2 linked regions of the Homo sapiens genome follow. The protein of the gene in region 2 purifies or fractionates together with the protein of the main gene of each other region. This does not show direct contact. Each region holds a gene or a part of one and is shown on either strand. Other genes may lie near its edges.

Region 1 (7,000 bases), on a different chromosome or scaffold from region 2:
AACTCCTGACCTCATGATCCGCCCGCCTTGGCCTCCCAAAGTGCTGGGATTACAGGTGTGAGCCACCGTGCCTGGCCCAGAATCAGGATTTCTGTACAAGCGTGGCACCCACGGAGCTAGAGATGCTGTCTCAGACCTAATACCCAATGGAACATCCAAGAATATGGCTCTAATTGCAGGGCACACCATACAAAAATGGAGGCGCATGGGGCCCAGCGCAGTGGCTCATGTCTGTAATCCCAGCACTTGGGGAGGCTGAGGAGGGTGGATTACTTGAAACCAGCCTGGCCAACATGGTGAAACCCCGTCTACTAAAAATACAAAAATTAGCCAGGAGTGGTGGTGCGCACCTGTAATCCCAGCTATTTGGGAGGCTGAAGCAGGAGAATTGCTTGAACCCAGGAGGTAGAGGTTGCAGTGAGCCAAGACCACGCCACTGCACTCCATCCTGGGTGACGGAGCAAGACTCTGTCTCACACACACAAAACAATGGAGCCACAGGGTCTCATCACAGAATGGATGGTCCTCACCTGTCATCTGTCCTCATAGCCAATGCAGGTACATGGCCTTCATCTGTAGGCAGAGCCCCGATTTCAACATTCTCACTCAGAAGCATGAATAACAGGGACAGAGGACCTATATAGATCTTGACACTTGGGCTGAACCTTGAGACATCTTGGCTTAAAGAACTGTATGTTTTGGACAGGCGCGGTGGCTCATGCCTGTAATCCCAGCACTGTGGGAGGGCAAGGCGGGTGGATCATTTGAGGTCAGGAGTTCAAGACCAGCCTGGCCAACGTGGTGAAACCCCGTCTCTACTAGAAATACAAAAATTAGCCGGGCAGTAATGGTGTGTGCCTGTAATCCCAGCTACTCGGTAGGCTGAGGCAGGAGAATCGCTTGAGCCTGGGAAGTGGAGGTTGTGGTGAGCTGAGATCGCGCCACTGCACTCCAGCCTGGGTGACAGACTGAGACGCTGTCTCCAAAAAAGAAAACCTGTATATTTTTAAACTATGATTTAAGGAGATATGTATGGGTGCTGTTATGGACTAAATGTCTGTGTCTCCCCCAAAATTCTTATGTTGAAACCCTAACCTCCAATGCAACTATATCTGGAGACGGTGCCTTTATGGAGGTAATTAAGGTTAATTGAGGCCGAAAGAGTGTGGCTGTAATCCAATGGGACTGGTGACCTTTTTTTTTTTTTTTTTTTTTTTTTTTCTGAGACAATCGTGTTCTGTCACCTAGGCTGGAGTGCAGTGGCATGATCACGGCTCACCGCAGCCTCAACCTCCCAGGCCCAGGTGATCCTCCCACCTCAGCCTCTTGAGTAGCTAGGACTAGAGGTATGCACCACCATGCCTGGCCAATTTGTTGTATTTTTTAGAGACGGGGTTTCACCATGTTGCCCATGCTGGTCTCGAACTCCTGGACTCAAGCGATCCACCATCCTCCCAAAGTGCTGGGATTATAGGCATGAGCCACCATGCCTGGCCTTCCTTATAAAGGGAAGAGATACCAGGGATCTCTCTCTCCGTGTCCCATGTGAGCGCACAGTGAAATGATGGCCCTCTGCAAGGCAGGAAAGCAGGCTACACCAGAAACAGAACCCTGCCAGAATCTGGATCTTTGTCTTTCCAGCCTCTCACAATTCCAGGGATTTTGAGAAGTAAATGTCTGTCATTTAAGCCACGCAGGGTGGTATTTTGTTAAGGCAGCCCTGACAAACTAAGACAGGTGCCAGGTTGACAAGAGATGGACCCTGATAGTCATGTTAATGTGTCAGCTTGGCTAGGCGAGATCCACAGTTATTCAGACACTAATCTAGATGTTGCCATGAAGGTTGGTTTGTTTGTGGTTTTTTTTTTTTTTTTTTTTTTTGAGACGGAGTCTCGCTCTGTTGCCAGGCTGGAGTGCAGTGGCACGATCTCGGCTCACTGCAACCTCTGTCTCCTGGGTTCAAGTGATTCTCCTACCTCAGCCTCCCAAGTAGCTGGGACTATAGGCACATGCCACCACGCCCGCTAATTTTTGTATTTTTAGGAGAGATGGGGTTTCACCATGTTGGCCAGGGTGGTCTCAATCTCTTGACCTCATGATCCGCCTGCCTCAGCCTCCAAAGTGCTGGGGTTACAGGTGTGAACCACTGTGCCCAGTCAAGGTTTGTTTTTTCTTTTCACCTTCTCAACCCAGCTTTTCCCCGACTCCAGGAAGAACTGGGAAGAGAAGGCCCCATGGAGGTATTTTCTTTTCTTTTCATTTTTTTGAGACAGAGTTTTGCTCTTGTTGCCCAGGCTGGAGTGTAATGGTGCAATCTCAGCTCACTGCAAGCTCTGCCTCCCGGGTTCAAGAGATTCTCCTGACTGAGCCTCCCGAGTAGCTGGAATTACAGGCGTCCACCAACACGCCGGCTTTTTTGTATTTTTAGTAGAGACGGGGTTTCACCATGTTGGACAGGCTGGTCTCGAACTCCTGACCTCAGGTGATTCACCTGCCTCGGCCTCCCAGAGTGCTGGGATTACAGGCGTGAGCCACCGCACCCGGCCCAGTGGAGGTATTTTCTGGATGTGATGAAAATCCATAATCAGCTGACTGTAAGTGGGAGAGGTGATCCTGCTTGTTCTAGGTGGGTCTCATTCAATCAGCTGAATGTTTTAAAAAGCAGATCAGAGACTTTTCGGATGAAGAAATTCCACCTGTGGACATCAGCTTCAGCTTGTGCCTGAGTTCCCACTTGCCCTTCCTGATAGGATGGATTTTTTTTTCTTTTTCTTTTTATTGTTTTGTTTTTGTTTCTGTTTTCAGAAGGAGTCTCACTCTATCACCAGGCTGGAGTGCAGTGGCACAATCTCGGCTCACTGCAACCTCCTCCTCTCAGGTCCAAGCAATTCTCCTGCCTCAGCCTCCCAAGTAGCTGGGACTACAGGCGTGTGCCACCACGTCCGGCTAATTTTTTGTATTTTTAGTAGAGACGGGGTTTCACCATGTTAGCCAGGAGGGTCTCAATCTCCTGACCTCGTGATCCACCCGCCTCGGCCTCCCAAAGTGCTGGGATTACAGGCATGAGCCACCGTGTCCGGCCTTTTTCCTGTTTTTGAGCCAGGGTCTCGCTCTGTCACCCAGGCTGGTGTGCAGTGGTGCAATCAGGGCTCACTACAGTGTCGAGCTCCCAGGCTCAAGTGATCCTCCCGCCTCAGCCTCCCAAGTGGCTGGGACCACAAGTGTCTGTCACCATGCTTGGCTAATTATTTTTTGTACAGGCAGAGTCTTGCTATGTTGCCCAGGCTGGTCTTGAACTCCTGGCCTCAAGTGATCCACCTACCTTTGCCTCCCAAAGTGCTGGGATTACTGGCCTCCCCCACTGTGCCCAGCCAGATTTGAGTTGCCTAGCCAGCCCACACAATTCTGTAAGCTGATTCCTTGCATATAAATATCTCAATATATATCTCCTCCTGGATGTTTCTCTGCTTGATCCCTAACTGATAGAGGCCCCACCCTCTTCCCCCGCCACCCTTCTGCTCCCCTAGGCTCTGTTCTTAAGCCCCTACTTGTCCCTCCCAGCTCCACCTCCTAGGCTCCGCCCCTAGACCTGAGCCCCGGCCCAGCCCCACCACTCCTTCCCCAAGCTCTGCTTCTGGGCCCATCCTTCTTCCCATTATTACTTCCTAGGCTGCGCCCCCAGCTCTGAGACCCGCTCCTCCTCCCCACGCTGTCCCCGTGCCAGGACCATTACGCTCCGCCCCCGGTGCAGAGCCCCGCCCCAGGCCCCGCCCCCAACCCTTTAGCTCTCACCATCGCACTTGAGGCCCTGGCGCACTAGGCCGAAGAGCATCTCCCCGCAGTGATCACAGAAGGCAGGCGCCCGATAGGAGTGCACCGTGAGGGCGTGCGGGCGGATCTGGAAGTCCTCGAAGGTGGCCGAGGCTGTAGGCGGAAAATAGGGGTGGATGCTTGAGGCGGGGTAGGCCAAAGCTTTTCCAGACCCCACGTTCCCTGATTTCTCACAGTGCTCCCAGCCGCAAGGTGTGATCTTTCCTTCCTTCCTTCATTTGCTCTCATACTACATTCTGCCTGGGTTCAAATCCCAGCTCCACCCCTGAACAAAACACATATATCCCTACGCCCTGGGCAGGGACAGAGCGGGAATTGGGGAGTTGTTTAACGGGCAAGGAGCTTCAGTTTCGCAAGATGACAACAGTTCTGGAGACCGGCTGCACAACAGTGTGCGTGAACTTTAAATTACTGAACTGTACGCTTAAAAGTGCTTAAAATGTTGTGGGCTTTTTTGTTTGTGTTTGTTAGAGAGTTTCACTCTGTCACCCAGGCTGGAGTACAGTAGTGAGATCTCGGCTCACCACAAGTCCGCCTCCCGGGTTCAAGCAGTTCTCCTGCCTCAGCCTCCAGAGTAGCTGGGATTACAGGCATGCGCCACCACACCCGACTAATTTTTGTATTTTTAGTAGAGACGGAGTTTCACCATGTTGGCCAGGATGGTCTCAAACTCCCGACCTCAGGTGATCTGCCCGCCTCGGTCTCTCAAAGTGTTGGGATTACAGGCGTGAGCCACTGCACCCGGCCTAAAATAGTAATTTTTATGTTATGTATATTTTACCAAATTAAAAAATTTTTAATTAAAAATACCACCACCAACAACAAAAAAGAACATGGATAGGCGGTGCCCGGTGGCTCACATCTGTAATCCCAGCACTTTGGGAGGCCCAGGTGGGCGGATCACTTGAGGTCAGAAGTTCGAAACCAGCCTGGCCAACATGATGAAACCCCGTCTCTACTAAAAATACAAAAATTAGCCAGGCCTGGTGCCGCGTGCCTGTAATCCCAGCTACTCAGGAGGCTGAGGCAGGAGAATTGCTTGAACCCGGGAGGCAGAGGTTGCCGTGAGCCAAGATCATGCCACGGCACTCCAGCCTGGGTGACAGAGTAAGATTCTGTCTAAAAAAAAGAAAAAAAAAAAAAGCCCAGTGTGGTGGTGCATGCCTGTAATGCCTATAGTCCAGCCACCTCAGGAGGCTGAGGCGGGATGATTGCTTCAGTCTGGGAGGTAGAGGCTGCAGTGAGTGGTGGTCATGCCACTGCATTCCAGCCTGGGTGACAGAACAAGACCCTGCCTCAAAACAAAATAACAGGGCCGGGAGCGGTGGCTCACACCTGTAATCGCAGCACTTTGGGAGGCTGAGGTGGGCAGATCACTTAAGATCAGCAGTTCGAGACCAGCCTGGCCAACAAGGTGAAATCCCGTCTCTACTAAAAATACAAAAATTAGCCACGTGTGGTAGCAGGCGCCTGTAATCCCAGCTACTCGGGAGGCTGAGGCAGGAGAATCGCTTGAACCCAGGAGGCAGAGGTTGCAGCAAGCTGAGTTTGCGCCACTGCACTCCAGCCTGGGTGACAGAGCGAGACTCCGTCTAAAAAAACAAAAAATAATAAAAATGACAAAAACAAAACAAAACTCAGGTTTAGGGGAGAGACAACAATGAAGATAAAAATTCAAGTGAGGCCAGCTTATGATATGAAAGAGTACTTAAAGCCTGAACAAGGTCACTAAAGGTGTAAATCCAGACTTCTGTCATTCATTCATTGAGCCGGTTTCACTGGGCACTGCAGTATGCCGGAGCAGCAGGGAAGGCAGCCATGAAAAAGGCAGCTGCCCCCACCCTCAAGAGGGACCAAGGGCCATAGACTGCTCTAAGGTGCTGAGAGCATGCCCATCTATACTACTGGAATAGTGAGTGGATGAACTGGCTTCTGGCTGTGTCTTAGAAAATCACCTGGGGGCTTTTAAAAATACTGATGTGCAGATTCCATCTCACTTTGCAGAGATTCTGATTTAATTTAGCATTTTCGTGGCAGGAGCCATGGACATCATAACTTTTTTTTTTCTTTTTCTACTTTTTTTCTTTTTTAGAGATAGGGTCTCTCTCTGTTGCCCAGGCTGGAGTGCAGTGACATGATCGTGGCTCACTGCAGCCTCAAACTCCTAAGCTCAAGAAATCCTCCCACCTCAGCCTCCCAAGTAGCTGAGACTACAGACGTGTGCCACCTCGCCCGGTTAACTTTTTTTTTTTTTTTTTTTTTTAAGAGATGGGGTCTCCTTATGTTGCCCAGGCTGGTCTCAAACTCCTGGGCTCCAGCGATCCTCCCACCTCAGCCTCCCAAACTGCTGGGATTACAGGTGTGAGCCACTGCAGCTGGCCCATTTTTTACCTTTATATTTAAGCATAACACAGTCAGTTACAGATCCAACTCCTTCTTCTCCTCTTTTCCCCCTTCTAACTACTGCACTTGACTAGTTTTATAAATAAATAAGTATAACATATGTTCAGGAAAGGCCGCACATCACAAGTGCACAGCTCAATGAATTTTCAAACTGTACAAAGCGTGTCACTAGCATCCTAATCCATAAATGAAAGTTTAGACCAGTCCCTAAAGAGCGCCTTCATGACCCCACTCTGTAACCATCTTCCAGAAGCCCCCAACTCTCCTTATTTTTTTTTTTCAGAGGGAGAGAAAGGGGTAGAGATGGAATCTCACTATGTTGCCCAGGCTGATCTCGAACTCCTGGGCTCAAGCGATCCCCCCAGCTCCAGCTCAGCCTCCCAAAGTGCTGGGATCACAGGCGTGAGCCACTACACCCGGCCTCTCCTGACTTCTAACTCCCCCTACCCTCTCCTCCCCCAGATGCCCCGCCCCCACCCGAGGCCCCGCCCCCAGGCCGGCCACCACCTCTCACCCGACAGCACCACCTCCACCAGGTCGCCCTCCTGGATGTCTCCGGACGAGCGCACCAGCTGCAGGAGGTTGGCCGACGTGGGGTCATGTTTGAAAAGCAGGATCTTGTCGTAAAGGCCGTAGAAGCCACACTCAGGGAACTGAGGGGCGGGAGAGGGATGTGGCGACGGAAAAGCTCAGAGCCGCCTTCAGCAGCGGGCGGACTGTGACCCTCCCAGGGCAGGGCCGGCTGTTTCCCCCGGAAACGCAGAGA
Region 2 (6,003 bases):
GCTTTTCTACTCCAGCAGAGGACCATATCAATAAGTCCATAACAATAGATGCAGGCCAGGTGCAGTGACTCAAGCCTGTAATCCCAGCACTTTGGGAGGCAGGAGGATCACTTAAGCCCAGGAGTTTGAGACCAGCCTGGGCAACACAGGGAAACTCCATCTCTACAAAATAAAAAATGTTAAAAAACCTAGCTGGGCATGGTGGTGTACGCCTGTGGTCCCAACTACTCTGGAGGCTGAGGTGGGAGGATCACTTGGGCCCCAGAGGTTGAGGCTGCAGTGAACCATGATCGTGCCACTGCACTCCAGTCTGGACAACAGAGGAAGACCCTGTCTCAAGAAATAAAAATAATGGCCAGGCACAGTGGCTCGCTCATGCCTGTAATCCCAGCACTTTGGGAGGCTGAGGTGGGTGGATCACTTGAGGTCAGGGGTTCGAGACCAGCCTGGCCAACATGGTGAAAGCTCATCTCTATTAAAAATACAAAAATTATCCAGGCATGGTGGCATGTACCTGTAGTCCCAGCTACGTGGGAGGCTGAGGCTGGAGAATTGCTTGAACCTGGGAGGTGGAAGTTACACTGAGCCAAGATCGTGCCACTGCACTCCAGCCTGGGTGACAGAGCGAGGCTCCATCTCAAAAATAATAATGATAATGATAATAATAAAATGATAGATGCAGAGGTGACTGGGATCTATAAACGGGAGCTGTGTTGGGGAGCGGGGACACTCAGGCACTTGGGACAGGGACATTTGGTGGCATCTGGGTCTGGAGCAATGGCAAGCTGCTGTAGTAGGAAGGCTTCAAAAGCTCCAAACGGGGCCTCCAGATGCTGTGAGTCCTCTCCTAGGACGCCCCATGTGGGAGGCCCCATATGGGAAACACTGGGTGGGACCAAAAGACTCCAAAGTCCCTTCCAAGCTGGAGACTCAGCTCTACATCCTGAGCCCCGCCTCCCACAATGGACGAGGTGCTCCCTTGGAGCTGATTTCAGGTCGCCTGTCCTGGGGGCATTCCCACCTGAGCTCCTCTGTGGTTTGCAGAACTCACCCATACCATCACTGGCCCAAAGGGATGGGGTGCTATGGTCTGAATGTTTGTGTCCCCCCTAAATCCTAGGTTGACTTTTTTTTTTTTTTTTTTTTTTTTTTTTTGAGATGGAGTCTCACTCTGTAACCCAGGCTGGAGTGCAATGGCGCAATCTCGGCTTGCTGCAACCTCCGCCTCCTAGGTTCAAGCAATTCTCCTGCCTCAGGCTCCTCAGTAGCTAGGATTACAGGCATGCACCACCACGCCCAGCTAATTTTGTATTTTTAGTAGAGACAGGGTTTCACCATATTGGCCAGGCTGGTCTTGAACCCCTGACCTCCACTGATCCACCTGCCTCAGCCTCCCAAAATGCTGGGATTACAGGCGTGAGCCACCTCACCCAGCTCTAGGTGGAAATTCTAACCCCAAGGTGATAGTTTTAGGAAGCAGGGCCTTGGAAGGCGATGAGGTCATGAGGGTGGGGCCACATGAATGGGATTAGTGCCTTTATGAAAGGGGCCCAAGATGGCCCAGAGCAGTGGCTCATGCCTGTAATCCCAAGCACCTTGGGAGGCCAAGCAGGTGGGAGGATCACTTGAGGCCAGGAGTTTGAGGCCAGCCTGGGCAACAAGGTGAAATTCCCCATGTCTACAAAAAAAAAAAAGGAGGGGCAAGAGAGCTTGCTAGTCCCTTTCACCCTGTGAGGACACAGTGAAAAGAGCCATCTGTGAAGCAGGCCCTCACCAGACACCGCTTCTGCCAGCACCTTGATCTATGAGAAATGAATCTGCGGTTTCTGAGCCACCCAATGTGTGGTATTTTGTTACAGCAGCTCAAATGGACTGAGACGAGCAGGGCCCTCAGGCCATGGTGGTTTATTGATGCACGTCGCAAGCACAGCACAGGCAGGCGGACCCCAGCCCCGGGGGGACATGAGGGCCAGGGGAGGGCAGTGGGCCACCCCCACAGCAATGCTGTCAGCACAGGGGGAAGGAAAGGGCCTGGGCCATGTTCTCTCCTTCTCCACACCTCTCCCCAAGCCTCCAGGCCTCCTGACTCATCCCAGAGAGACAGCTGGCCACACAACTGCCCCTGGCTACAGATAGGTGACCGTTGTCCACCTGTCCCTCACCGAGGTATGGCCTTGCCGGCCCGCTGCTGCTTCCGTCCTTCATCACGAAAATCCAGCTGCTCATCCATCATCTCTGTCACCTCTGAGAAAGTCACTGTGAGGCTGCACTCTCCTCTGCCTGATGTCACCTCCATCATCCCCCAAACAGCCGGCTGCTGCTGTCAGCCCCTCCCACAGGCTCTCTGTTTGCTTTGTTGATTGTAGGGAGTCCACCCTCGTGACCTGTGTGACAGTAGGAATGAGGCAAAAACACAAGGAGGCCCGGGAAGGACTTCACCAAGAACTCCCCGGGGAGGGGCTCCCGGCCAGCAGGGTGGCAGGAGAGCAGACAGAGCCAGTGGGGAGGGGAGAGGCGGAGCAGCAGAGGGTCCACAGTCCAGGTCACGCATGGGCACAGTACAGTCATGGCACCATGGCAGAGCGAGTGAGCAAAGTGCACAGCTGGGCGGGGTGCCGGGGCCCGCGGGACAGCTTACAGGTCTCACGTTCCATGCCAGGCCCCAGCAGAGCATGAGGCGGCCCACTCCCAGCTGAGGAAGGGGCACCTCTGGGTCTCAGGGGTCTCCTCCCCCTCCTCAACCCCAGTGGCTGCTGTCTCAGACCCCTGCACTCTAAGCAAGGAGAAGGTATGCTGGGGTATGGAAGGAAGGAACATCCGACAGCCTGACGCCCCCAGTGCCAAGAGAAGAAAGAGAGTTCCTTTCTAGAGAGCAGGGGGAGTGTCCCGGTGGGCAGGTGGAGAAGGAGGGACAGCTCTCCCATGCAGGAAGAGGGTTCTTTGGGGCAAGGAGCAGCCAGGGAGTCACGGTGGTGCAGGAGACTATTTATAGAAGGAAGGGATCCAGGCCTGGAGTGGGAAGCCCCAGAGACCCAGCTCAGCAGGGAGGGGGCATTCTGTGGTTGGCCCTGAGTGGGGTGAGTGGGACTAAGAAAGATCGCCCCACAGCTCTCTGCATCTCTTCTGGAGGCAGCCAAGCTACCCATGGGCTTTGGCCCAGAGGGGCTTCCCTGGGAGAGCCCAGGAGGTGGGCAGGTCTTTGGGAGATAGAGACCTGGACGAGGCAAAGAACAGTAGGACAAGGAAACCAGAGGAAAGGGGAAGTTCTCCAGAAGTCCAGCCCAGCTGCCAACTACAGAGGCTGAGAAGCCTTTCCATGTCCACCAGGCTGGGTGTGGGCCACACTTACCAAGAGGACCACCGTCTGTTGCCTCCAATGCCAAGGGGCGAGGGGAGGGCAGCTGGGCAGAGTGGAGGGAGCAGGGGGGCAGGAGAGAGAAAGCCAGCTCCCTGAACCTGGGCTACCCACCTCCACCTTCCGCTCATCTCTCCCTCGCCCCCCAGCTCCCCAGGAGTCCCTAGCGGCCCACGCTGATGTTGCAGGTCTTGCAGCTGGGGTCCTTCTTGGCATCGGCAGTAGACAGACTCATGAGCTGGTGCCCACTGATCTCCCCCAGGGTGCCCAGGGACAGGTCGACGGGCTCAGTGTAGATGATCTCCAGGATGAGGTCCTGGGCGTGGCGGAAGACCAGCTCCCCATCCTCCACGCTGCAGGTCAGGAACTTGTTGCAAGCAATGTCCAGGAGGGGCAGGCGGTCGCGGCAGAAGCGGTCCCCCAGGGAGCCTTTGGGCGCCAGCACCAGGATGGCGTAGTGGTAGGCCGTGTACATGCAGTAGAAGTCCGCAAAGTAGAGGTTGGTGCTGGGATTGAAGAGGCGCTGAGCTGGGATCTGGAAGCGCCAGCGGCCGTAGGGGGAGTCCTGCGGGGGCTGGCCCGTGTTGAACTCCGTGTTGCAGCTGAAGAAGACCCCGTGGAGCATACCGCTGGTGGGGGAGCCGTGGCTGCCACTGTTGTCCTTCAGGTAAGGCTGCAGCATGTTCCCGCAGTGGGTCCTGCCCACCCCAGGGAGACACACCAAAGGGAAGAGAAGATGTGGCTGGTGAGCCGGGCTGAGGCTTGGCTGCTGCGTGTGGTCGAGGAGGGAGGAAGCCAGCCCAGCTCCCAGCCCTCCCCCAGCCGCCTCCACTAGTCGCAAATAGAACATTCCAGAATGCAAGAGCAGGGAGGGCCCTGGAGAGGGATTCAACCAGCCCACTCCTTCTCAGAGAAGAGATATGAAGCTGTCACTCCCCAGCTTGAAACCCTTTGATGGGGTGTGTGTGAAAAACACGGCGGCTCATGATCTGATCTCTGTGGTCTCCTTGCCACTCCCCACCTCCTGCCACCCCATCCACTTACCCACCCCCTGCACACACAGTCTCCTGCCTCCGTGACCCCTATGCAGGACTCTTCCCTCTGCTGCACTGACTGCCCTCTCCACCTTCCTCCGTCTGGCTTGGCAAACTTCTAATTAGCCTTCAAGCTTCAGTCAAGCGTCTGCTCCCCTCTAAAACCTCCCAGGAACAGCAGACACCTGCACTTGACAAATTTTTGGCTTCCTACTATGTGCAGGACACCCAATCTTCTCACTATGTTGCCCAGGCTGGACTTGAACTCCTGGCCTCAAGTGATCCTCCTGCTTCAGCCTCCCAAAGTGCTAGGATTGCAGGTGTGAGCCACTTCACCTGGCCAGGACACTGAACTGTGCTCAACAATTACACGTACTTTTTACATGAAATCTTTCCATACTGTCTCTCTGACTGGATTCTGAGGTTCTCAAAAGAGTGAACTGTGCCTTTATCTTTACATCCTGGCACCAAGTAAGGTGCCTGGCACCCATGAGTGCTCTCTATCTCTCCCACTCTCGCTGATAAAGGAGCCCAAACTGGGCCACTGACTTGCTTTCCAGGCTGGAGTGCAGTGGTGCAATCACAGCTCACTGCAAGCTCGAACTCCTGGGCTCAAGCAATCCACACCCGGCTAATTCTTTAAATTTTTTGCAGAGGCTGGGGTCTCACTATGTTGCTCAGGCTAGTCTTGAACTCTTGGGGTCAAGAGATCCCATCTCGGCCTCCCAACGTGGTAGGATTACAGGCTTGAGCCACCAAGCAGGCCTTGCTTCTTTAATACAAACCCCAAAGACTCCCAAGGTCCTCACTGCCCTGAGGTTAAAACTGCCCTGACTGTAAGGATAAAGACAGACAGAGGCCGGGCGTGGTGGCTCATGCCTGTAATCCCAGGACCTTGGGAGGCCGAGGTGGGCGGATCACCTGAGGTCAGGAGTTTGAGACCAGCCTGGCCAACATGGTGAAACCCCACTTCATTAAAAATACAAAAATTAGCCGGGCATGGTGGCGCATACCTGTGGTCCCAGCTACTCAAGAGGCTGAGGCAGGAGAATCATTTTAACCCAGAAGGCAGAGGTTGTAGTGAGCAGAGATCGCGCCCCTGCACTCCAGCCTGGGTGACAGAGAAGACGCCATCTCAAAAAAAAAAAAAAAAAAAAAGGCAGAGCAGCTGCTTGCCCTGGCTGAGCCTCAGAAGGATGCGGCCTTGGAGCACTTGCCAGCAGGCCCGGGGATGGTGGGTACTCCTGGTCCTGCCTCACATTGCCTGGTCCTGGCTGTCCTCAGTAACAAGTGACTCCCTGGCTCGAATGAACAAGTGCTTCCCTCTGGGCCTCAGGCTCCTCTTCTGTAGGCTGAGGGTGTTGGATCAGATCACCAATTTTCAAACACTTTTGGACTGCAGCAACTCTCTTTTTATCCCCAAAAGAAATTATACGTGGAAGGGTCACAGGCAAATAAAATTGAGGCTACTCTGACTGGAGGTCAGGTGTGGGGCCCACCAAGCCTCAACCTCTGGTCCCCCCAACCCCATGGCAGCATTCTAAGGGGTTCACTGACATGTCTCCCTGGAGGGAGCACCCAGTTTGAAAACCGACGAGCTGGGTGCTTCCTCGA

Evidence for each region.
Region 1: the proteins of PHYHIP (region 2) and PRKD2 purify together in Homo sapiens (affinity purification with mass spectrometry; 3 studies listed by BioGRID and IntAct, with this or other methods). This does not show direct contact.

The regions. Positions count from the first base shown.
Region 1 is NC_000019.10:46,707,115-46,714,114, forward strand, and holds part of PRKD2 (serine/threonine-protein kinase D2), read right to left. Parts: exon of another isoform or gene 6,888-7,000; coding exon 6,749-6,887; intron 3,925-6,748; coding exon 3,793-3,924; intron 2,241-3,792; exon of another isoform or gene 2,168-2,240; intron 1-2,167.
Region 2 is NC_000008.11:22,217,835-22,223,837, forward strand, and holds the end of PHYHIP (phytanoyl-CoA hydroxylase-interacting protein), read right to left. Parts: intron 4,054-6,003; coding exon 3,519-4,053; 3' UTR 1,869-3,518; downstream 1-1,868. UniProt on the Homo sapiens protein: Its interaction with PHYH suggests a role in the development of the central system.